2 separate regions of the Homo sapiens genome follow, and region 1 is linked to region 2. The links come from fine-mapping of genetic effects on gene expression. A gene starts in region 2. The other region holds a variant in brackets. All regions are shown on one strand. Distances are from middle to middle. Region 1 has its middle 87 kb from the start of LINC01739. Region 2 holds the start of ALG6 (ALG6 alpha-1,3-glucosyltransferase).

Evidence for each region.
Region 1: its variant is fine-mapped to the expression of ALG6 in skeletal muscle (FUSION, PIP 0.95).

What each region holds. Positions count from the first base shown.
Region 1 is chr1:63,095,132-63,103,472 of GRCh38, reverse strand. No RefSeq gene overlaps it. Among named protein-coding and RNA genes, the nearest start is that of LINC01739, 87 kb to the right of the region's middle. The variant A/G (reference allele first, on the strand shown) is at 3,991.
Region 2 is chr1:63,362,640-63,370,980 of GRCh38, reverse strand. It overlaps ALG6 (ALG6 alpha-1,3-glucosyltransferase), which reads right to left and starts at 3,354. Exons shown (of 15, transcript NM_013339.4): 1 at 3,294-3,354; 2 at 1-210. The coding sequence starts at 3. RefSeq lists enhancers at 2,785-2,894, 3,755-3,894 and a silencer at 3,075-3,554.

The DNA.
Region 1 (8,341 bases), 270 kb after region 2:
ATCAACTCTCTGTTCATTGGCAAGGCTAAATTAGTGAATGATCCATTGAGATAATGATAGGAAGCCACTTTCTAAGCTGACATTTGATATGCAAAGATAACATAGTGATGCCTTAACAGACTAGAATTATTTTTCCAATTAGTCAAAAGTTTGTTGAGTGGCACATGGCACATGTATACATATGTAACAAACCTGCACGCTGTGAACATGTACCCTAGAACTTAAAGTATAATAAAAAAAAGTTTGTTGAGTGGCTACAATATGCAAGACATGTACGATGTCTAAGAAGACACCTGTGATTACTGTCAAGCTGATTAAAATATGGTTGAGGAGCAATTATCTACATATATGTTGTACACACAGACGTATACATTTGAAAAACAATTACTATTGAATTAAACATTAAACTATATCCTAACCACATTGACCTTTCTGTCCCAGAAGATGTCACATCCCTTTCCAACATAGAGTCTTCATAAATGCTAATCTTTATTCATTTATTCAATTTTTATTGCTTGATTACTTTGTGTCAGGCACACAAGATTCTGATTCTCATGGAACTTATTTTCTAGTTGGCAAAAAGAAACATAAACAAGTAAGCAAGTCATCAGGCACTGAGAAATGCTCTGAGTTAACCAGTACATTGAGATATGGTAGATGGTGACTGGTGGAGTAGGAGTGGGGCTGCATCCAATATGGTGGATGGGGTAGGCTTCTAGGAGCAGGACATGTCAAACTGAGATCTAGATGATGGAACCAGTTACGTAAAGAGCTGGGATAACAGCATTCCAAGCAGAGGGAATAACAAATGCAAAAGCCTCATAAGATAGGAACAAATTTGACGTATTTTAAAAATAGAATACTAGTGGAACTGAGAAGAGTGACTGAAGGGAGACTGGTAAGAGATGAGGTCACAAGGAAGCTAGGACCAAGTCACAGAGCCTTGCAGGCCATGATAGGGTTTGCTGCTCCTATGCCTGGAATGACCTGGCCCCTACTCTCTGCTTAAAGCTGGTGCCCTTCCTTTGCTTAAATGTCACCTGCTCATGGAAGTCTTCCTTTATGCCCTGTCTAGAATAATGTCATGTATTATTTGCTCTCTTAACATACTGTGCTTCTTTTTTGAAGCACTTAATACAATTGAAAGTAATTATTAGTGTAATTATTTGTTTGATACTTGTTATCCAAAGTAGACTGTCAGTCCCTTGGGGGTAGAGACTGGTTTATCTGGCTCACTGCAATGGGAAGAATTAAATGCATTTGGCAAACATTTATTAACTTTTACTATATGCCAGATATGGAGAAGATGCTCCATAAATATATTGATGCAATGAAAGAATGAATTAACACAGGTAAAGCAAGTGACTGGGAGGCAATGGCTAAAGCAACTATAAAACAACTGTACCTTAATTAGTTGTTTAATACATTGCCCACTGCCGCAGCCCACTTTGCCCATGAGGTTGTAGAAGGTTCCATAAGATGGCCAACGAGAGAATATGTCTTACTCAGAGCTGGAGTTGGTGAGCAGTGGTTCCATTCTTTTCTTGAAGGCTTTAATTACCTGTTCTCAGTTCTGAATGGGTGTTAGCTATTTCCTTTTCTAAGCTTTTTTCTTGTCAATCTTCTTTCCTCCTTTTCCTCTAAATCAGTAAGCAAGGTGTGGGGAGTGGCTGGTATGAAAGCATGAGAATGGGGATCATGGAGGGAGTTCATGTCAGCTCTTTATTTTTTTCTGTATGCCATGATTTGCACTATATTGTAGATAAAGGTTTATTAATTGTATCAACATTTTTACTATGTTATCAGATATGACATAGCTTTATATACCCAAGAGTCATGCTGAATAGCCAAGTGAATTAGGCTTAGAAAAAAATCGTGTCTCAATGTGGAGGCTGCTCATGTGGAAATGAACAGGATGTGTCATCCTTGCGATGGATCAAGAGGCCAAGGTGCTGAGAATAAGCACTGGACCAAGAATCCAAAGACCCGGTTTCAACCCCAGGCTTTGTCATGTAGTGGCTGTGTGTCTCTATGCAAGTTAAGTAAGTTATTGGACTAATTGTTTTTGTAATCTGTGAAAGAAGACAATGTCTAATTCATAGAATTGCTAAGAAGATTAAGTGTGCTGGCCTATGATAGTTCCTGGTCCATACTAAGTTCAGACATAAATGTTTGCTGAATGAATAGAATACTTCCCAATGCATTATACTTTTTCTGGTTGATCCTGAGCTAGAATTCTTTCCATTCATTCATTCATTCATTCATTCAACGTATACATATGTTTGCTTAAGAAGGTTCAGAAACTGGTTTCCAAGCCACATTTTGAGAAATATATTTTTGGATTGGAAAAGAATGAGCTTTTGAAATCACTGAAGCAGGCAACACAATATAGTAGATAATAACAACAACAACTACTACCAGTTATTGTGAGCATACCAAGTGTCAAGCACTGGGAAAATGTTTTCCCCATGTGATCTCATTTATTCCTATTACAGCATCAGAGAAGGTAAGTAAGTTCCCAAGGTGGTCCAGTTAGTACATTGAGGGCTAGGATTTTAACCTAATTTTCAGGACTCCAAAGACTGTGTTCTTAATAGTTCTAATAATAACCTTCATCATGGGATTGTTATTGGGTCCAAATGATATACACCATATATAGACATGTTTTATAAACACTAAAGCTCTGTATAAATGTCCATTTACTATCATTATCAGAAAGTGATTGACCTGATGACATTCCACAGGGTCAACTGTGCTTCTGGAGGTAACTGAATGCCAGCTCTGTGTATATCTAAAAATTCTGATTATTTTATGCATTTTTTTTTTTTTGGCCTCTGTTTTATTCGAAGAACTGTTTTCTTTTCTCTACACCTGATCTTTCCAAATTAGATCTGTCGACAGGGTGGCTGAATGGTGAGTGGCTCTCCTGTGTCTTTCTAGGGATGCCCCTGCAGAGCCATGCCGAGGATAACTGAGGGAATTATGGAGAGCTGGCCACACTCTGCTTCTATTTGTTTTGAGCCTGGGAAACAGCAGCTGTCCTAAAATCACCCTGATTCAGAATTCTTCCAAACCAGAACACAGCAGATTCACAAGAATCAAGTGATAAAACTCACCACATTCTCATTTCAGAGGGGAGGAAAGAATCCCAAATGTAAATTTCAGTTCTCTGTGTTCCAAGTACCCCCCCTTCCATTCCCTGCCAACATCTTATTGGCATTCGACTTAAAAATGCATTTTCATTTTACATAATGGATTAATCACACCATGGATTTTTTCCTAATTCATGTCCTTAGGACATATATAATATCTGTTATCTAAGAAAATGTTTATTTGTTTTGTTCTATTGCCCAATAAGCTTATTATAAGTTCAGGCTAGTGTGTGTGTGTGTGTGTGTGTGTGTGTGTGTGTGTGTGTTTACACAGAGAATGTACCACATTAAAACCAGGAAAAATTATCTTTTAAATTATTCCTTGATGTAGAGCAAATCAATCCAGTTTCTTATACCTACTGGAGAAGCACAAATGGTGCTGGAACATCTTCAGAGTGGTTTATGCCCTTGGCAGGTCAATCAGAGGGTAGCTGAAACTGAAGAAGTCATACGCCATGGTGCCAGCGGAAATGAAAATTATACCACTCATACTAACGAGTGCATTTCCAAAGGGACTATTTAGCGGTATTAGAAGTCTCTAAGCAGATGCCTCTGAACTTAAAATACACTTAATTCCTAAGAATTGTCTTGTAATTAATTTACCCAGATAGACTCAATGAGGAGAATGTAGGGCAAAGCACCACATTGCTCAGCAGTTTGCAAACTTCAGGGAACACTAAGATAAATAATTTGATTTTTTTAAACTTCTAAATTCATTTCCCTTATAACTGAGAAACAGGAATGGCATACAGTAAAGAAAAGCACTTTCTGATTCTATAATATAATCTCCTTAAAAAAATTCTTACTACTGTAACAGGAAGGATTCCATGGAGCTGAC[A/G]TCAAAAGAATATCACTCATGCTTTGGATATAGCTTTTATGCCTATTAACTTGTCTGTCTGTAAACATTTCATTGAACGTGGGAAGCTAGCTCCTGACTGTTTTAGTTATACACACAGTGCTGTACAGCAACAAACAGCTTTAACATACCTCCCATTAACACAGCTTGTATTTCATGAAGAACAGCCAGGTCTCATGTGACTGCTAACAGCTGTATTTTTCTAGTATTGAGGAATCTAATTTAAAAAGTGTTCAGATTTTTTCGAGGTTTTGGTAAAAATTTGATAAAACAGTTCTATCTCTGGAGGTTAAAGGTACAGTGGTGTGATCTTTGGATGGGCCACTATATCAATGGGGAGGTTCTTTTGTCAAGCCTTTTGGGTTTTTTTTTTTTTTTTCTAGCAGCTTAGACTTTGGACCCACTTGGATCAGAGTCCCAGTCTGGTTCTCTCTTTGACCTTAAGGAAACTTCTTAACCTATATAGGACTCAGTTTAATTACTTATTAAAATAAAATGATGATAATGATAACAATAGGTGGCATTTGAAGGATGGGGAGGTAATGTACATAATTTACCCTAAATAGTGCCTGGTACAGACTCTATAGGTAGTAGTTTATTATTACCATCTGCTTTTACACCAGGTCAGCTTACTCATTTATTCTATCCCTTAAAAGATATTTATCACACACTTCCTCTGTGCCCTGCAGTGTGCATGGCGTTTTTACATATCTCATATCAACCTTATGAGTAGGTTTCATGATCACCATTTCATAGATGCAAATACTGAAGCTCGAAAGGTTAAGGAATGTGCTCAAGGTCATATAGCTGGTAAGGAATGCAGCCAGAGTTGGCACCCACGTCCACCTTTAATAAACCCATATTCGTGTTTACTAGGCATGAAGCACCAAACTAGGCACTAGGGAGACTGAGATGAATGAGACATGCCTCCTCCACTTCCAAAAACATCACCTTCTATTTGGGGTTGAACAGAGCAGAGGGAGCACCAAATAAGCCAGACCATGACAAATTCTATCATTGTGGTATGAAAGAGATGTTCAGGATCATCACAGAGTATGTAACTAACGACGGGAGAAACTGGGAAGGAGGTCACACAGGAGGTGACTTTTGGAGCTGGATCTGGAAAAATGAATGAGATTTAACAGATAAAGAAGGCAATTCCTTGTAGAGGGAATCTGCTACACAAGGCATGAAGGCTTGGGGTATTTGAAGGATGTTGAGGAATCCTGAGTTTACATCCCCACCTCGTGTCCAGTGACACTGGGCTGGTCATTCTCCTTTCGTTTCTTTCCATCTTTCCTTCCTTTCCATCTTTCGTTCCTTTCCATCTTTCCTTCCTTCCTTCTTTTCTTTCTTTTTTTTTTATTATTATACTTTAAGTTTTAGGGTACATGTGCACATTGTGCAGGTTAGTTACATACGTATACATGTGCCATGCTGGTGCGCTGCACCCACTAACTCATCATCTAGCATTAGGTATATCTCTCCATGCTATCCCTCCCCCCTCCCCCATCCTTCTTTTCCTTCTTTCTTTCTTTCTTTCTTTTTCTCTTTCTTTCTTTCTTTCTTTGTTTCTTTCTTTCTTTCTTTCCTTCTTTCTTTCTTCTTTCTTTCTTTCTTTCTTTCTTTCTTTCTCAGTGTCTCACTGTGTCACCCAGGCTGGAGTGCAGTGGTGCAATCATGGCTCACTGCAGCCTCCAATTCCCAGGCTCAATGATCCTCCCACCTCAGCCTCCTAAGTAGCTGGAACTACAGGTGCACATCACCACACCCGGGTAACTTTTGTATTTTTTGGAGAGATGGGGTTTCCCCATGTTGCCCAGGCTGTTCTTGAACTCCTCAGCTCAAGTGATCCACCTGCCTTGGCTTCCCAAAGTGCTGGGATTACAGGCATGAGTCACTGCACCCAGCAGTTATCCACCTTTCTGCCCCTCCATCTGTTGGAATAAAAACACCGGGTGACTATGGAGATCAAAAGATGAGTGCATAGAAAGCATGTAGCACAGTACCTGGTACAATAAAACTGAGCTGCTGTTTTATACCTCGATGTCTTTGCTCATACTGTTCCCTCATGCCGTAGTGTATCACCACCTTCTGAGACCTCCCACCTCAGCTAACTTCTCACCCACTTACTTCCTCTCATTATGGCTCAGCAGAGGGCTAATATGCCCTGGAACGGTGCTTCTCACCTTTGGTGTATAAGCAAATCATCTGGGCATCCTGTTGCCCAGTGCAGATTCTGATTTGGCAGGTCTGGAGTGGGGCTGGCTTTCTCACAAGCCTCCAGCTGCTGCTGCTGCTGCTGGTTGCAGGACCACACTTGAAGGAGTAGGGCACTACACAGTGTTTCCCAGAGTGGCATCTGCATTTCTAGCAAGCTTCCAGTAATGCCAGATCTACTGGTCCACAGACTATACTTTGATGAGTGAGTCTAAAGCACCATATCAATGTCCATTTTTCAGAGTCCTTCAATGAGCAGAGCTTCACCTTTCTTTCCACTCTTTTCTTCTCCTTCACAGAATGATCCGTTCCAGCCAAACTGGACTCATTTGTGTTTTCCTGAGTGCACTGTCTGCACTGCTCTGGACAGCTGTACTTGAACCCTGACCTTCTCTGTGACCCACAGAGGCCTGTGCACACCTCCATCATGGCACTTACCACGCTGTGTTGAAATCCATATTTACATGTCTGTCTCCACTTCCAGACTATTAGTCTACTAACTATAAGTTACAATCTATACTTTAATAATGACCACGTTACATTTTTACTATCAGTGATGTAGCAAGAAGGTGGGGTGTTGGGAACGGTCATTGTCTTCATATCCTAGGGCTGCCATAACAAAGTCCAACAAACTGGATGGCTTAAAACAATAGAAATTCCATTGTCTCATAATTCTGGAGGCTAGAAGTTTGAAATCAAGGTGTTGACAGGGTTGGCTCCTTTGGAAGGCACTGAGGGAGAATCTGTTCCCTGCTGCTCTCTTAGCTTCAGATGGTTGCTGGCAATCTTTGACATTTCTTGGCTTATAGACGTCTTATTCCAGTCTCTGTCCCTGTCATCACATGGCATTTTCTCCTTGTCTGTGTCTATCTCTGTTTCTTTTCCTCTTCTTCATTTGGAGAAATAAGACACCATTAAAAAATAGAGACACCAGTCATTGGATTAAGGACCCTGTCTATGCCAGTATGACCCCATCTTAACTAATTACATTTGCAACAACCCTTTTTCCAAATAAGGCCACATTCCAAAGTCCGGGGAAGGATGCACATTTTGAGGGGGACACTATTCAACCCAGTATAGTTGTCATTTAGAATTGCTACTGTATGGTGATAATAAGAAGTAAACCAAGATGTGGTCAGGTTTTTACATTTTCTGCAGATGACGCTTGTACCTGGGGTGGACCATTCCCATTGTCCATCCCCATCCCTTGGTATAGCATTGCCTTACTAATTCTTATAATATATGTCATCATACTTATTTTATTTTCACTGGAATAGTACAGAATTTATTTCTGAAGGCAGGTACTATTTATTTTTAAATTTGCCATGGGACATCGTGGCTACCCAAGGAATGTTTTTTGAACTGAACTATTGCCCAAGAATGCCATATCAAAGTACAGTAAACTTTAATGACTATTTCTCTGCCAGAATTGTAAGAATTAGGCTGGGCACAGTGGGCTCACTTCTGTAAGCCTAGTATTTGGGAGGCCAAGGCGGAAGGATTGCTTGAGACCAGGAGTTCAAAACCAGCCTGGGAAACATAACAAGATCCCATCTCTACAAAAAAGCTAAAAAATAAAAAACAGTTTTTTAAAGAATTAATTCCTTAAATCTCTACTTCACACCCATAGTGAAGATTTTAAAAGTACAGTCAAACATCACTTAACAACAGGGGTATCTTCAGAGAAATGCCTTGTTAGGTAATTTTATCATTTTGTAAACATCATAGAGTGTACTTACACAAACCTAGATGGAGTAGCTCACTACACATCTAGGCTGTATGGCACAGCATATTGCTCCTAGGCTACAAACCTAGACAGCACATTACTGTACTGAATACTGTAGGCAACTGTAACACAATGGTAAATATTTGTGTATCTAAATATATCTCAACGTAGAAAAGATACAGTGAAATATGATATGAAAGATTAAAAATGATATATATGTATAGGGTGGCTCCCCTGTCCATGTGCAGTCTGTCATTGATTGTTACGTAGTGCATGACTGTAATTGGAGTCGTAATAGTTGATATTTTAAGGAGGTGTAGGATAATTCTATTTCAGTCTATGGAAAGATTAGGCTCTTCTAAAACCCAGAAGTATTTCCAACAATGT
Region 2 (8,341 bases):
CATAGTTCTTCAAATTTAGGGAGGGGAAGAAAACACAGCACCAGTGCCAGAGTACTTTTAAAACGTGGTCAATCACTTCTTTTCTTGTTCAGAGAAATGTTATCACTTCTTGAAATGTTATCGATTCTTCGCAATTAGGAGTTTGAGAGAATTTTAATGATGCTTGGTTTCCAAATAGTCAAAACTTGATTATGTCTATGTAGAAGTATCCTAAGGGGAAAAAAAAAGATATCAAGATTCAGCTGAGTACAGTACCTACAACAATGAACCCAGTAAACCAAGTAGAAGGATAGAGAATTCGAGGGGAGGGGTAGTGGGAAGGAATGTGAAGGAAACGTGGTATTTTAAGTTCCTTATTCCCTAGTCCTTTAGTTGGGAATATACATCAAAAGGTGGATCTCCCTATTAAATGGGACTCAATACATCTAAAGATATAGTAAAGATTTACTCTCACAAGGGAATATTTCTGAGAAAAGAAAAACAACACATATGTAGATAATGACACAGTCAATTCTATTTAGAACACATTCACCTACAGGTAAATATAAAACCACAACCGTAGACAAAGGCATGATTTATCTTTGGTACAGCGAGAAAGAGGAATCTTGTCTTTGTATTTAGTTTGGGAAAGTCTTCCAATAAACAATTTATCTAGTTTGGTTTTTACTTTTCTTCCAAAATATACTTGCATTAACCACACCAACTTTCCATCTTAGAGAAATGAGCCTTTTTAAGAATCATTAAGAATAATCCCAAATCGTGAGAAAAAAATACAAAAGCAGTAAAACTCAATTAACCACTTACTTTTTTTTTTTTTTTACAGTTTTCCTTAGGTTGGGGTTTTAAAGTAAGAAGCAAATTGATGCCGGTTGCGGTGGCTCACGCCTGTAATCCCAGCACTTTGGGAAGCCGAGGTGGGCAGATCACCTGAGGTCAGGAGTTCAAGACCAGCCTGACCAACATGGTGAAACCCCATCTCTACTAAAAATACAAAATTAGCCAGGTATGGTGGCGCTCGCCTGTGATCCCAGCTATTTGGAAGGCTGAGGCAGGAGAATCGCTTCAACCCAGGAGGTGAAGGTTGCAGTGAGCCGAGATCGCACCATTGCACTCCAGCCTGGGCAACAAGAGCGAAACTCCATCTCAAACAAAAAAAAATAAAAAGCAAATCGACAAAATTGACATTTTCCTCTTCTCTTTGAAAAATGTTGGACCATTTTAACCACAGGATACACTTTAAATATATTCAGAAAATATAATAAATCAACTAAAAAATTTAGGGCAAAATTGGTACATTCCACCTAATGATCTAAAATTATTTTATTTTATTTGTTTTTTTTTCTTTTTTTTTGAGATGGAGCTTTGCTCTTGTTGCCCAGGCTGGAGTACAATGGCACAATATCGGCTCACCGCAACCTCTGCCTCCTGGGTTCAAGCGATTGTCTTCCCTCAGCCTCCCAGGTAGTTGGGATTACAGGCACCCACCACCACGCCTGGCTAATTTTTGTATTGTTAGTAGAGACGGGGTTTCACCAGATTGGCCAGGCTGATCTTGAACTCCTGACCTCAGGTGATCCACCCTCCTTGGTCTCCCAAAGTGCTGGGATTACAGGCGTGAGCCACTGCACCCGGCCCTAATTATTTTCTTATTTAAAATAAAAACATCACGGGATAACTCCAGAACTGATTGGAATGGCTAATCTTTTGTCATTGATGCCAAATCTCAAATCATCCCCTCAGAAAGATCATCCCTGACTATCCTACTAAAGCTTCCTCCCCTTACTGTTTGTATCATTACCTTCAATTTGCTTCCTAATTCTTTTCACTAACAGGATTTGTATTTTCACATGACATGGTGCAATCTCACACACATAATTTTCAGTATAAATGCTGGACACCAAAGAATACATATCATATGGTTCCATGAAAGGTTCATAAATAGGCAAAACTAATCTATGGTGTTAAAAATCAGGAAAGAGGTTACCTTTGGGGAGGAAAGAAGGGATGGTGGTTGGGAGGGGTGCCCAGAGAGGTGTTCTGAAATGCTGTGAATCTTCCTTCTTGATTTGAGTAGTGGTTAGGAAATGTGTTGACTTTAGGATAAATTAACAAGTTACAACTTATAATTTGCGTACAGTATTTTTCTATATGGTATATTCCAATTTAAAAAGCATAAAAGGGGCTGGGCGCAGTGGTTCACCCCTGTAATCCCAGCACTTTGGGAGGCCGAGGCAGGTGGATCACCTGAGGTCAGGAGTTCGAGACCAGCCTGGTCAACATGGTGAAACCCCATCTCTACTAAAAATACAAAAATTAGCTGGGCGTGGTGGTGCGTTCCTGTAATCCCAGCTACTCGTGAGGCTGAGGCAGGAAAATCGCTCGAACCCGGGAGGCAGAGGTTGCAGTGAGCCAAGATCGTGCCACTGCACTCCAGCCTGGGCGACAGAGCAAGACTCTGTCTCAATTAAAAAAAAAAAAAGTGTAAAAGGAAATTACTTGGATGTGTTGACTAAAGGCTCCCTGTGAGCAGGGATCCTCCTGTCTTAGTCGTTGCTCTCTGTTCCCCACTTGTAGAACAGTGTTAGCAGAAGGCAGGTACCCAAGAAGTATTTGCTGAATGGAGCTGTGTGCGTCTGTGTGTACGAAGCGGGGAGGTACCCTAATTTTACTGAGCCCTGTGTGGTTAAAGATATTATGCGAGGCTTTTAACGACTCTCTTCTGCTTAAACCAGAAAAAGGGTTATTTGCGACTTTTTCCACCTGTAAATCAGAAAACAGTAATTTTCTAACCCATCCACTGGCCACGAAGTTGCTAGGCAGGCAGTAGATGCGCTTTTCGTCCTCCTTTGCCCTGACGGTGCATCTCGACAAATGCCAAGCCCGCCGTCCCCATCCCAGAACCGACTTTGCTCCTTTTAGTCTGAAAGGTCCTTCCACCGCAGTGGACACAACACCGGGGAGTGCAGCTATCCCGGGCGTGTATATGGGGCGAAAGGGATCCCTTCTCGCGTTTCTCCGCCCCTCCTCTTGAGGGCCAGGCCCTCAGAACCGCAAGGACAAGGGTGCCAGGACCGCCCCAGCCTGCAAGTGCCACCACTATCACCGCGTCCCCTCACCCGACCCACAAGCGACCCTGCAGGAAGGGCTGGGGAGGCCTCGCGTCGCGTCCCTGGGAGTGGAGCGGAGCTGGGAGACGGGTCGCCAGCTCTGCGCCGGCTCGTGGCGCGTCCGAGCCCCCGGCACCTCCCCACACTGGCCTGGGGTCCGGAACCTCCGGGATCCCATGCTCTTACCCCGCCGCCCGCCGGCCGCTGGGATTCGCGCCTGCCGTGGGTCCCAGGAAGGCGCATGCGCGCTCGCCCCCGCGGCGGACTGCCCCTCCGGCCTTCCGCCTCCGTGTGCCCGCGCACCACCCGCGCGCCCGGTGCGGGAGCGAGCCCGTCGAGCGTGAGGGGAGGGGCGGGCAACCTGGCCTGGACAGGAGGCGGCCGGCTTAGGAGGCGGGGCAAGAGCCGATGGAACCCGAGAGGTCCCCAGCCCCGGGTTAGGCTAGGGGCAGGTGGAAAGCCCCTTGCTCTTCTTTCCTGGGATCGTGGCCAAGGCCGGAGCGGCTGCTTAGCCAACGGATTCCTGTCAGGGGCGGGCCCTGGCTTGCTGCACTGAGCAGAGAGCCTTGGCCGGTCCTCACCACCTCTGGGCCTGTGCCCTCGAGGAGCCAGAAAGCCAACCTGCTTCACTTTCTTCTAGCCACATGCCTGCGAAGAAGAAGACTGGGCAGCCCCCTAAAGTAAGAAACATTGAACATCCAACCATTTGCGAGAGCCTGTGCGTTGTGCAAAAGGACAGCCCTGCCCTCGAGTAGCCACTACACGTGCCCCAGCGGGCAGCTTGAATCACCTGGTCCCAAACTTGCCAAAAATACCTATCTAGTAAGTTAGTAAGACCTGCACACTTTTCCTTTTGCATTGATCCCTTCCTTTCCAGTTCCACTATTTCCATCTCAGTCTAGGCTTCTGTCCAATCACGCATGGACGGCTGTGATGATTTTTACTTGCCTTCCTTTGTTCAGAGAGTGCCCTCATTCCCCACTTCTGAATCTTGCCATTCTACGTAAGCCAACCCCTATAATTTGTAAGTGTTAGCAAATATTTGGCTAGGACTATGGCTTTCTACTGAGTCTGAATAACTTCTCTCTGGGCCTCAGTTTCTTCAACTGTGAAAGAAATCAGTAGGGCTAGGTGAACTTCCAGGTCTAAAATATGATTATATCTAAAAGACCATCAGCACTGGGAATATGGAGAAATATGGCAGGTCCCTGCCCTCAAGGCATTTAATTCTCATTGGAAAGACATTTTTATGCATAAAAGGATAAAAAGCTATAGAAGGAAACACATACTAAATGTTACATTACTTACATATGCACTAAGCACTGTAGGAGTTAGGAGAAGAGGGTTCACTGTAAACTGCAAACCATCAGGAAATGCTTTTCCTGGAGGAGTCAGCTGAGCTTTGAAGGAAAGCCTGGCTGGATAAGCCCAGAGAATGAGAGTAAGAATCTAGACAAAGGAAATGGTTCAAGCCAAATATTGTGGCAGCTGAAAAGTGTAGAACATTTCCTCTAGTTTAGGTGGTGGGTGATGAAGCTGGAAAGGACTGGTAATTGTAGAGAGCCTTGAATACCAGGCTATGGTGTCTGGAATGTATCCAGTGATCAGTAAGGGGCTATTAAATGACTTTTAGCAGGGAGTCAAGTATACAGTACAGTTACAGTGTTAGAGAAAACTTAAAGTGGTGAAAATGGATCAGATGAATCAGAGGGAGACTATAGCAGTCCACGCATGATTAGACAAGGGCTTGGACTGAGATGGCAATAGTGGAACTGCAAAGGGAGAGATCAATGCAAGAAGAAACATGTACAGGTCTTTTTTTTTTTTTTCTGAGACGCAGTTTCGCTCTTGTTCTCTTGTTGCCCAGGCTGGGGAGCAATGGCACGATCTCGGCTCACCACAACCTCCACCTCCCGGGTTCAAGCAATTCTCCTGCCTCAGCCTCCCGAGTAGCTGGGATTACAGGCATGCACCACCACACCTGGCTAATTTTGTATGTTTAGTAGACATAGGGTTTCTCTGTGTTGGTCAGGCTAGTCTCGAACTCCTGACCTCAGGTGATCTGCCTGCCTCGGCCTCCCAAAGTGCTGGGATTACAGGCGTGAGCTGCTGCACCTGGCCTCGTGTACAGGTCTTAATAGCATACTAGATATGTACAAGTGAAACAAAGGAGAGGGAAGAATCAAGGATGGCTCCCAAGGTTTCAAGTGTGCATTACAGTTCCCAAGAACTGATAGATCTTGGGAAGCCTGGAGAATAATCTGGCTTGGAGGGAAAGATGGTTCATTGTATTGAGTTCACGGTAACATAAAGACAAGAAAGTTGTAATACTCAGGTGTCAGTTATGAATCAGAGCCCAGGAAAGAAATTGGGGTGAAGATAGAGAGATGAAAGTGTTTCATTTGCTGAATAATGATGGAGACAGTATAGAGAGAAAATAAACAACCATACTTGAATAAATGCATTATCTCAGGCCAAAAGGAGAAAGGCACATTGGTGAAGGATGTTACATGGTTACAAATGTAGGGAGAAATCCATTACATTGCAGGATCATAAATATTAAGCATCTGGTGAACAAGAACCATGTTTGGCAGACCAAAAATCATACTTTATTGAATCTAAAGTTCCACCACTTGTAAAAAGCACCATTATTTTATGTACCACTGAGGAAGAAAACAATGCTACCATTTAAGCTAGTAATTACTGTAAAACATATAATTTCAGAAATATTAATATGTAAAAAGTATACATCTTAAAGTGATGGAAGTTGGTATCAATCTCTCCTTCCTGTTTCTCAACCCAACAGCTTCTGACCCAGTATTTAACAAAAAGTTAATGCTCAAAATGTTCATGAATAAATAGCGGAAGAGACATCACAGTCACTAACTCATAGCTGAATTGTCTCACCACTGCCATCTATATACCTTCTCCTGCTCTTTACCTTCAATAGGTATCATCTTTCACATGTGAATATCCAGTGCCTTTACATAACAGATGTTCAGAAAATGCATTTTGAATGATAGCATTTACTATAAGCAAAAAGGATAAGCCATAGCAAAATTGTAAAGCAGATCAAGTTTAGAGGCAGTGTAGAAAGGTGATTAAGAACTAGTCTCTGACTCTGAAAACAAACAGGTTTGGATTTAAATCTTAGTTCTTCTACTTTCTAGCTGTGTGAACTTGGTAAAGTCTCCTAATGTCTCTGGCATAATTACTTCACCTACAAAAAAAAAAGAATTAATAATAATGTCATCTTCTTTGAATTTTAATGAGAGTAAAATGAAATCATGCATATAAAACTTGAATATACTGCCTGGCATATAGTATGCAATCAATAAATAATAGCTATTATCATTTGTCTTTAACATGTGCTCACTTTTTCATAGCCTTTCTTTGAAGTGTCTTCTTCCTCCTACCATATAGCAGCCCATACATATATATATTTGCATCCCCACCAGAAGCCTACTGTTCTTATCTGAAAATTTTCTCTGAAACCACGACCAGACACAGTATCTCACAGCTGTAATCCCAGCACTTTGGGAGGCTGAGGCAGGCAGATCCTTTGAGCCCAGGAGTTGAAGACCAGACTGAGCAACATGGCGAAACCCTGTCTCTACAAAAAGTATATAAAAATTAGCCAGGTGTGGTGGTGTGCTTATGTAGTCCCAGCTACTCAGGAGGTTGAGATGGGAGGATCACTTGAGCCCAGGGAGGTTGAGGCTGCAGTGAACCATGATTGCACCAATGCACTCTAGCCTGAGTGACAGAGCACAACCCTGTCTCAAAAAAATAAAAAAAAATTATCTGAAATCAAATTACACTAATGTATAATCCATCTTAAAAGTTGTTGGCTGGGCGCAATGGCTCACGTCTGTAATCCCAGCACTTTGGGAGGCCAAGGCGGGTGGATCACGAGGTCAGGAGATCGAGACCATCCCGGTTAACACAGTGAAACCCCGTCTGTACTAAAAATACAAAAAAAAAATTAGCCGGGCATGGTGGTGGGCGCCTGTAGTCCCAACTACTCGGGAGGCTGAGGCAGGAGAATGGCGTGAACCCGGGAGGAGGAGCTTGCAGTGAACCGAGATCGCGCCACTGCACTCCAGCCTGGGCAACACAGCAAGACTCCGTCTCAAAAAAAAAAAAAAAAGTTGTTGTTGCCCAGGCCCGCTGGCTCACGGCTGCAATCCCAGCACTTTGGGAGGCCGAGGCAGGCACATCACAAGGTCAGGAGATACGGTGAAACCCCATCGCTTCTAAAAATACAAAAAAAATTAGCCGGGCGTGGTGGTGGGTGCCTGTAGTCTCAGCTACTCGAGAGGCTGAGGCAGGAGAATGGTGTGAACCCGGGAGGCGGAGCTTGCAGTGAGCCGAGATCGCACCACTGCACTCCAGCCTGGGCGACAGAGCGAGACTCCATTGGGAAAAAAAAAGAAAAAAAAAGTTGGTGCATTTTAAAGGCAGATGGGAAAGAATATGAAATGAATACTATTAATCTCTAAAGTCAGTTTGACTAATAGGTGATGGCTTCAATTATCTACTGCTGTGTAACAAATTACTCCAAAATTTAGCGGCTTATATAGCAATGATTTTATTTGCTCATGTTTCTATGGATCAAGAATCTAGGCAGGGTTCAGGTAGGTGGTTCATCTGTTCCACTGGGATTGTCTGAGGTCACTCATGAGGCTGCATTCAGCTGGGAGATCAGCTCAGGCTGAAACATCCGTGAACAGCTTCAGCCCTCTCTCCACAGGGCTTCTCTCTTCAGAAAGTTTCGCAAACTTTTTACACGGCAGCTCACTTCCCAGAGAGAGCATTCCAAGCGGCAAAGGCAAAAGTTGCAGATCTCTTACACCCCAGCCTTACAAGTCACACAGCAACCTAGCCATGATACAAGGAGAGTGGAAATAGATTCTGCCTCTCAGTGGGAAGGTAGGAAAGAATTTCCGGCCATCTGTAATCCACTACAGAAAAGTTGGGATGAAACTAGAAATGGGCAAGAGCCCAACTAACAATTTTATTTCTCACCAGCCAAAAAATCAGAGTTCAAATCCCCTTACTTACTTGTCTTTCTGCCATGTCTTTTGCAAAAGGAGCAACCTCTGGTGGCCATTTCATGTATGTAGAGTAAAGATAATCTCATGGTACAAATTGCATATAACTTGTTTTGGCCTGAATTGTAGCCCTCAAAATTCATATGTTGAAGTCCTAATCCCCAGTGCCTTAGAATGTGA